Linked DNA regions of Homo sapiens: region 2 is linked to region 1. The links come from fine-mapping of genetic effects on gene expression. A gene starts in region 1. The other region holds a variant in brackets. All regions are shown on one strand. Distances are from middle to middle. Region 1 holds the start of NAP1L2 (nucleosome assembly protein 1 like 2). Region 2 has its middle 36 kb from the start of PABPC1L2A.

Region 1 (4,406 bases):
TATTCTGTTCCATTGGTTTTTTGCGTCTGTATTTATGACAGTACCATGCAGCTTTGTAGTACATTTTGTCATCAGGCAGTGTGATGCCTCCAGCTTTGTCCTTTTTGCTCAGGATCATTTTGGCTATTTGGGATCTTTTGTAGTTTCATAAAAGTTTTAGGATATTGTTTTCTGTTTCTGTGAAGAATGTCATTGGTATTTTGATAGAGATTGCATTGAATATGTAGATTTCTTTGGGTAGTATAAACATTTTAACAATATTGATTCTTCTAATCCATAAGCATAGGATATCTTTCCATTTTGGGGTTCTCTTCATCTCTTTCATTAGTGTTTTTATAGTTTTTATTGCGTAGATCTTTCACTTCTTTGGTTAAATTTATTCCTAGATGTATTATTTTCTTGTAGCTATTGTAAATGGGATTGTTTTCTTGATTTTTTCAAATTGTCTGCTGCTGGTGTACAGAAATGCTACTAATTTATGTGTGTTGATTTTGCTTCATGCAAACTTACTTAATTTGTTAGTTCTAACAGTTTTTTTGTGGAGTCTTTAGGTTTTTCTAAATATAAGATCATGTCTTCTTTGAACAAGGATATAAATTAGCAACTTCCTTTCCAATATGTATGTCCTTTATTTTTTTCTCTTGCAAAATTGCTCTGGGTAGGACTTCCAGTACTATATTGAATATGGTCTTTAAAATATTTTTCTCTACACTTTATATTATGATAAAATATACATAACATAATATTTACCATTTTACCTATTTTTAAATCTACATTTCAGGAGCATTAAGTACAATCACACTGCTGTGAACCATCATCACCATACATCTCCAGAATATTTTCTTTTTCTTGAACTGAAACTCCATACACATTGAACAATAACTTCCTTTCCTCCCTACCCCAAGCCTCTGAAAACCATGTTTCTACTTTCTGTCTCTGTGAATTTGACTGCTCTAGATACCTAATTAAAGTAGAATCATACAATATTTGTTCTTTTGTATCTGGTATTTTCACTTAAAGGAAAAATTTATCTATAAACTGACAGAATTTAGAAATAAATACAACAATATGTAAACAGTTTTAATATCTGTGATAGTAACAAATTCTTTAAATCTGGAAAATAATAGTCACTTAAAATTTTAAAAAATTGTTCAATTAATAAATGATCCAAGTTAGAAATATGAACAAAATAAACCTCACCAATAATTACTATAGAGAGGAAATTTTAATTACTGCAAAGCTTTCCATCCTATAAATACATTATCAAATAGTTTAACCATTTCTTTAATGCTGAGATTTAGATTATTTCCAATTAACTCAAAAGCATCAAGCAAATGTTATGATTTCTAAGAATAAACATAACTTTCCATTTTGGCTTTTGTATATATGTATATTTCTAACGGCTGTTAAAGCCAGCATTAAGAAGGAGAAGCAGAAAGTCAGTATTGGGACTGGGGTTATTTATAAGCCAGGCAACTGGTTAATTGTGGTTAATTGTCTGGTATGTTTACTAGTCACGTAGTTGTATACACCATACTAGTTTTTCATCACAGGCCCTCATTCGCCCCCACTGCCATCGGACTTCCTCCTCCTCCCCTCACAGGAAATGTTTCGAGAATTTTTCAACCTAAAATCATATAGCTTGTGAAAAATACCGACAAACATAATATAGAATATTTAAATAACTGACACGCCACCTAAAGACCATCAGTGCTAATTCCTGGTGTTTTTAATCTTTGAAGCGTTTGTTTATCAGCTCTTCCACCATCCACCTCTCCCCTCCCCAGGTCCCCGATCTAAAATCAAAGAGATTGATTTAGGATGGGTGGGTGCCTTGTCTTCTCTCATTGTTCGACATTTTAGTTACGTTTTCTCTGAGCTCTCTGGAAAGCATAAAAGTATAATATCTGTTAAAAGTTGGATGAATGAACTAATGAACGCAATGGGATTCCAGAAAACTCTGCGGGAGATGGGCTAGAGGACGAGGAGGAGGTGGATGAATCAGCCATGTTAGAGAGCCTGGGAAGGTGAGCAGAGTTGAAAACTTGATAGATCTAATAATTTACTGGCTCTGGGTTTGTCAGTCACTACATTGCAGCAAATGAGATTAGAGCATAGTTGTGGGAGGGAAGGAGGTGACGCAGCAATCTATTTGCACCTAGAAATTTTAGGCAAGTGATAGCTGCGTAATCATACTGCGGCACCGTTTTTTTCTTGCAGCAGTAGCTGCTTGCGGAGGAGGTCTGCCCACTGCAGCTCTCTGCAGTCTCCGGCTCTCTCCTGCAGGATCGGTCAACGCAGCCGTCGCCGCCCTCTGCACCCAGCCCAGGTCGCCACTGCTTCAGTCCGGTTCTCAAAGCCTCAGCACCATCTTTTATCCCCGAGCAGCCTGGATCGTCGTTCCCTCAGTCCGGACGCCACTGCTAGGTCCGACCACCGCCGCTTCTGATATTTCGGTGAGTCTTTTCCTGTGGAGGTTTGGTCTCCCGATCTCTGTGGTAGCCACCTTAGGCGTGTACGGTCCTTTGAAAAATGGCCGAGTCAGAGAACCGCAAGGAGCTGTCAGAATCCAGTCAAGAAGAGGCTGGTAATCAGATAATGGTGGAAGGGCTCGGGGAACATCTGGAGCGCGGTGAAGATGCCGCTGCTGGGCTTGGAGACGATGGGAAGTGCGGTGAAGAAGCTGCCGCTGGGCTTGGGGAAGAAGGGGAAAACGGTGAAGATACTGCTGCTGGGTCCGGGGAAGATGGGAAAAAAGGTGGCGATACTGATGAGGACTCAGAGGCAGACCGTCCAAAAGGACTTATCGGTTATGTTTTAGATACAGACTTTGTTGAAAGTCTACCTGTGAAAGTTAAGTACCGTGTGTTAGCCCTTAAAAAGCTTCAAACTAGAGCGGCCAATTTAGAATCCAAATTCCTGAGGGAATTTCATGACATTGAAAGAAAGTTTGCTGAAATGTACCAACCCTTACTGGAAAAAAGACGTCAGATCATCAATGCAATCTATGAACCTACAGAAGAGGAATGTGAATATAAATCAGACTCTGAGGACTGTGATGATGAGGAAATGTGTCATGAAGAGATGTATGGTAATGAGGAGGGTATGGTACATGAATATGTGGATGAGGACGATGGTTATGAGGACTATTATTATGATTATGCTGTGGAAGAGGAGGAGGAGGAGGAGGAGGAGGACGACATTGAGGCTACTGGAGAAGAGAATAAAGAAGAGGAGGATCCTAAGGGAATTCCTGATTTTTGGCTAACTGTTTTAAAAAACGTTGATACACTCACTCCTTTGATTAAGAAATATGATGAGCCTATTCTGAAGCTCCTGACAGATATTAAAGTTAAGCTTTCAGATCCTGGCGAGCCCCTCAGTTTCACACTAGAATTTCACTTCAAACCCAATGAATATTTCAAAAATGAGTTGTTGACAAAGACCTATGTGCTGAAGTCAAAGCTAGCATATTATGATCCCCATCCCTATAGGGGAACTGCGATTGAGTATTCCACAGGCTGTGAGATAGATTGGAATGAAGGAAAGAATGTCACTTTGAAAACCATCAAGAAGAAACAGAAACATCGGATCTGGGGAACAATCCGAACTGTAACTGAAGATTTTCCCAAGGATTCATTTTTCAATTTTTTCTCTCCTCATGGAATCACCTCAAATGGAAGGGATGGAAATGATGATTTTTTACTTGGTCACAATTTACGTACTTACATAATTCCAAGATCAGTATTATTTTTCTCAGGTGATGCACTGGAATCTCAGCAGGAGGGGGTAGTTAGAGAAGTTAATGATGCAATTTATGACAAAATTATTTATGATAATTGGATGGCTGCAATTGAGGAAGTTAAAGCTTGTTGCAAAAACCTTGAGGCATTAGTAGAAGACATTGATCGTTAGAGCAGAGTATACATGGCCCTGAAATTAACTGCCCTAGATATAGTTACTCAAGGTATAAGAAGCCTTGTGTTCTGTATTTTTCTTGTAGTGTTAGTTAAAACATATGTTTCAAAAATATAAGAAAAGTTCAAAAACTAATTAATTTGACCTTGAGTTTTAGTAGTAGAATGTTTTCAAGAAATGTACACTGTGGTAAATGATTTAAAACACTAGTATAGTGTTGTGTAGCTTAATCCTTCTGAAGTCTTTTTGTCATGTAGCTATTAATCTGTGGCTATGAAATGATCAGAAATGCTAAGTGAGATCAATATTTGTTTGGAAAAAAAATCTTGGGAAACAACCCAAGGGTTTTCGCTGTTGTTGTTTTTCTTTTTCTATTTTTGTTTACTTAGTCCTTTAGCTAGTGGATTTAATTTTGTTGTGCCTGCTTCATTTTGCAATAACAATGCAGTAGAATTTAAAACTTGGATGCTTAAGAGGCCTGCATATAG
Region 2 (4,406 bases), 99 kb after region 1:
ACAGCTCCATCAGCTCCTTTAAGCACTTCTCTGTATTGGTTATTCTAGTTATACATTCTTCTAAATTTTTTTTCAAAATTTTCAATGTCTTTGCCTTTGGTTTGAATGTCCTCCCGTAGCTCGGAGTAATTTGATCATCTGAAGCCTTCTTCTCTCAGCTCGTCAGTCATTCTCCGTCCAGCTTCGTTCTGTTGCTTGTGAGGAACTGCGTTCCTTTGGAGGAGGAGAGGTGCTCTGCTTTTTAGAGTTTCCAGTTTTTCTGCTCTGTTTTTTCCCCATCTTTGTGGTTTTATCTACTTTTGGTCTTTGATGATGGTGATGTACAGATGGGTTTTTGGTGTGGATGTCCTTTCTGTTTGTTAGTTTTCCTTTTAACAGACAAGACCCTCAGCTGCAGGTCTGTTGGAGTACCTGGCCGTGTGAGGTGTCAGTCTGCCCCTGCTGGGGGGTGCCTCCCAGTTAGGCTGCTTGGGGATCAGGGGTCAGGGACCCACTTCAGGAGGTAGTCTGCCCGTTCTCAGATCTCCAGCTGCGTGCTGGGAGAACCACTGCTCTCTTCAAAGCTGTCAGACAGGGACATTTAAGTCTGCAGAGGTTACTGCTGTCTTTTTGTTTGTCTGTGCCCTGCCCCCAGAAGTGGAGCCTACAGAGGCAGGCAGGCCTCCTTGAGCTGTGGTGGGCTCCACCCAGTTCGAGCTTCCCAGATGCTTTGTTAACCTAAGCAAGCCTGGGCAATGGCGGGCGCCCCTCTCCCAGCCTCGCTGCTGCCTTGCAGTTTGATCTCAGACTGCTGTGCTAGCAATCAGCGAGACTCCGTGGGCGTAGGACCCTCCAAGCCAGGTGCCGGATATAATCTCCTGGTGCGCCGTTTTTTAAGCGCGTCGGAAAGCACAGTATTCGGGTGGGAGTGACCGGATTTTCCAGGTGCCGTCTGTCACCCCTTTCTTTGCCTAGGAAAGGGAACTCCCTGACCCCTTGTGCTTCCCGAGTGAGGCAATGCCTCGCCCTGCTTCGGCTCATGCACGGTGCACGCACCCACTGACCTGTGCCCACTGTCTGGCACTCCCTAGTTAGATGAACCCGGTACCTCAGATGGAAATGCAGAAATCACCTGTCTTCTGCGTCGCTCACGCTGGGAGCTGTAGACTGGAGCTGTTCCTATTTGGCCATCTTGGCTCCTCCTCCCTGTGCCACATTTTCTTAATCCAGTCTATCATTGTTGGACATTTGGCTTGGTTCCAAGTCTTTGCTACTGTGAATAGTGCTGCAGTAAACATACGTGTACATGTGTCTTTATAGCAGCATAATTTATAGTCCTTTGGGTATATACCCAGTAATGGGATTGCTGGGTCAAATGGTATTTCTAGTTCTAAATCCCTGAGAAATTGCCAGACTGTCTTCCACAAGGGTTGAACTAGTTTACAGTCCCACCAACAGTGTAAAAGTGTTCCTATTTCTCCACATCCTCTCCAGCACCTGTTGTTTCCTGACTTTTCAATGATCACCATTCTAACTGGTGTGAGATGGTATCTCATTGTGGTTTTGATTTGCATTTCTCTGATGGCCAGTGATGGCGAGCATTTTTTCATGTGTTTTTTGGCTGCATAAATGATCTTTAAGGCTTTTGAAAAAAAAAAAGAAAACCCCATTGTCGCAGCCCAAAAACTCCTTAAGCTGATAAACATCTTCAGCAAAGTCTCAGGATACAAAATCAATATGCAAAAATCACAAGCATTCTTATACACCTATAATAGACTAGCAGAGAACCAAATCATGAGTAAACTCCCATTCACAATTGCTACATTGTGTCTAAATGGGGTTTACCCAGAAATACAAGATTCACTTAACTTTTAAAAAACAGACAATATAATTCATCATGTGAACTAAAAACAGAAAAATCATATGATCATCTCAATAAAGCATTCATAAAATTTAACACCATTTCATGATAAAAGGCCTCATCAAACTAGGAACAGAAGGAAACTTAACCAGATAATGGACATCTATGAATAACTGACAGCTAACCTTATACTTATTGCTGAAAGAGCAAGTCATTTCCCCTTGAGATCAGGAATAAGACATGGCTGTTCACTCTACCACTTCTATGGGCCTTCTAGCCAGGACAATTATGCCAGTAAAAGAAATAAAAGGCATCCAGATAGGAAAGGAAGAAGTAAAACTATCTTGCTGCAGACGGGAATTTTGTATGTAGAAAATCTTAAGGAATCCATAAAAGAGAAACTAGAACTAAGAAGTCAGTTTAGTAAGGTTTCAGGATACAAAATCAATATAAAAACTCAATTTTATTTATATATAGTAGTAAAAGTGGTAAGAAATTGAAATAAATTTATAACAGCAAGCAAAAATATGAAATTCTTAGGGATAATATTTTCAAGATATATATATATATTGAAAACTGCTGCTGAGAGAAAGTAAAGAAGACCTAAGCAAATTGAGAGACATTTC[A/G]TGTTCACTGGTCAGAAGACTCAGTATAGTTAACATGTCAATTCTCCCAAATTGAACTATAGAATTGATGCAATCTCATTCAATATTCCAGATGGGATTTTTGCAGAATAGACAAGAATATTCTAACATTTGTGTGGAATTACAAAGGGCCTGGAATAGCCAATATAATCTTGAAAAAGGACAGAGTTGGAGAATTAAGACTTACTATAAAGCAACAGTCACCAAGACAGTGTGATACTGCATAAAAATAGGAAAAAAATGGATGATGGAACAAAATAGATAATGCAGAAATAAAATACCCATATAAGGACAACCAATTTTTCAACACAGATATGAAGACAATTCGGGGTAGAAAGGATAGACTTTTTAACAAATGGTGTTGAAACAATTGGGTATTTATAACCCCTCAAAAAAAAAAACATTGTTCCATACCTCATACATAAGCCAAAATTGACTCAATGTAGACCACAGACCTAAATGTAAGCTTAAATTCTAGTCAAAAACATATGAAAATCTGTTATGACCTTGTGTTAGGCAAACTTTTCTTTAATGCAACATGTAAATGATAAAGGGCTGTTATCCAGAACATACACATAGAACTATGTGTATATTCTCAGTAATAAAAATACAACCAACCAAATGGAAGAAGACCAAATATTAGAGCAAATTACTTTACCAAAGAAGAGACATGGATGAGAAATAAGCACATGAAAATATGTTTAATATTTCTGATCATGATGAAACTACAACTAAACACCACAATTTCATACCACTATACATGTGTTAGAATGGCTAAAATTAAAATGACTCTCCATATCAAGTGTGGGATAGGATGTGAAGGGACTGGAACAGTCATATACCACCGATAAGCATGTAAAAACGGTACAATCACTTTGGAAAACAGTTTTTGCAACATGTTAAAGAGTTAAATATACACTTATATGCCTCGGGTATTTCATTCTAAGGAATTTACCCAAGCCAAATGAAAGCATATATCTACACAAAACTTGTTCATGGATGTTCATAACAGCTTTATTTGTAATAGCCAAAAATTAGAAACATCTTAAATGTCCATCAACAGGTGAATGAATAAACCATTGCATATCTATACAACAGAGTACTTATCAGCAATCAATAAGTCATCACTATTTATTAATATATTATAACACAAACAACACAACACATTCCTTACAACACAAAGAATTTCAAAATAATTATTCTGATTGAAAGAAGCCAGGCCAAAAGAAGTTCATATTGTGATGTGTGTATGTGTGTGTGTGTGTGTGTGTGTGAGACAATCACCAGTTGTGCATAATTCTAGAAAATGAAAAGTAATCTATAGCCACAGAAAACAGATCAGTGGTTGCCTGGTGATGGGGAGGACAGTGTGAGGAAGAATTACAGGGAGGGAATGGAAGGGGCATGAGTAAATATTTTTTATCTTAAATTCACTGTTGAGACCTACTGCTCAGAAAAAAAGACTCCTTTCAAAATATTACTACCCATTGACAATGCACCTAGAACTCTGATGGAGATATACAAGGAGAGTAATGTTGTTTTCAGGCTAGCTAAACACAACACCATTCTGTAGCCTATGGATGAAGAAGTAAGTTTTATTATTTAAGAAATGAATTTCATAGGGCAAAACTGCCATAGATGGTGATTCCTCAGATGGATCTGGGCAAAGTACATTGAAAATCTTCTGGAAAGGATTCACCAGTCTAGTTGCCACTAAGAATATTTGTGATCAAATATTAACATTAACATTAATGGGAATTTTGAAGAAGTTGATTACAACCCTAATAAATGACTTTAAGGAGTTCAAGACTTCAGCTGAAGAGGTAACTGCACATGTGGTGGAAATAGCCAAAGAATTAGAATTAGAAGTGGAACCTGATGATGTGGCTGAATTGCTGCCATCTCATGATAAAACTTGAATG

What was found. PIP is the estimated chance that this variant, and not a neighbour inherited with it, causes the effect.
Region 2: its variant is the best candidate, but not a certain one, in a credible set for the expression of NAP1L2 in whole blood (TOPMed, PIP 0.74).

Annotation. Positions count from the first base shown.
Region 1 is chrX:73,212,619-73,217,024 of GRCh38, reverse strand. NAP1L2 (nucleosome assembly protein 1 like 2) reads left to right here and starts at 2,174. Exons shown (of 1, transcript NM_021963.4): 1 at 2,174-4,406. The coding sequence starts at 2,533. The coding sequence ends at 3,915.
Region 2 is chrX:73,113,689-73,118,094 of GRCh38, reverse strand. No RefSeq gene overlaps it. Among named protein-coding and RNA genes, the nearest start is that of PABPC1L2A, 36 kb to the right of the region's middle. The variant A/G (reference allele first, on the strand shown) is at 2,467.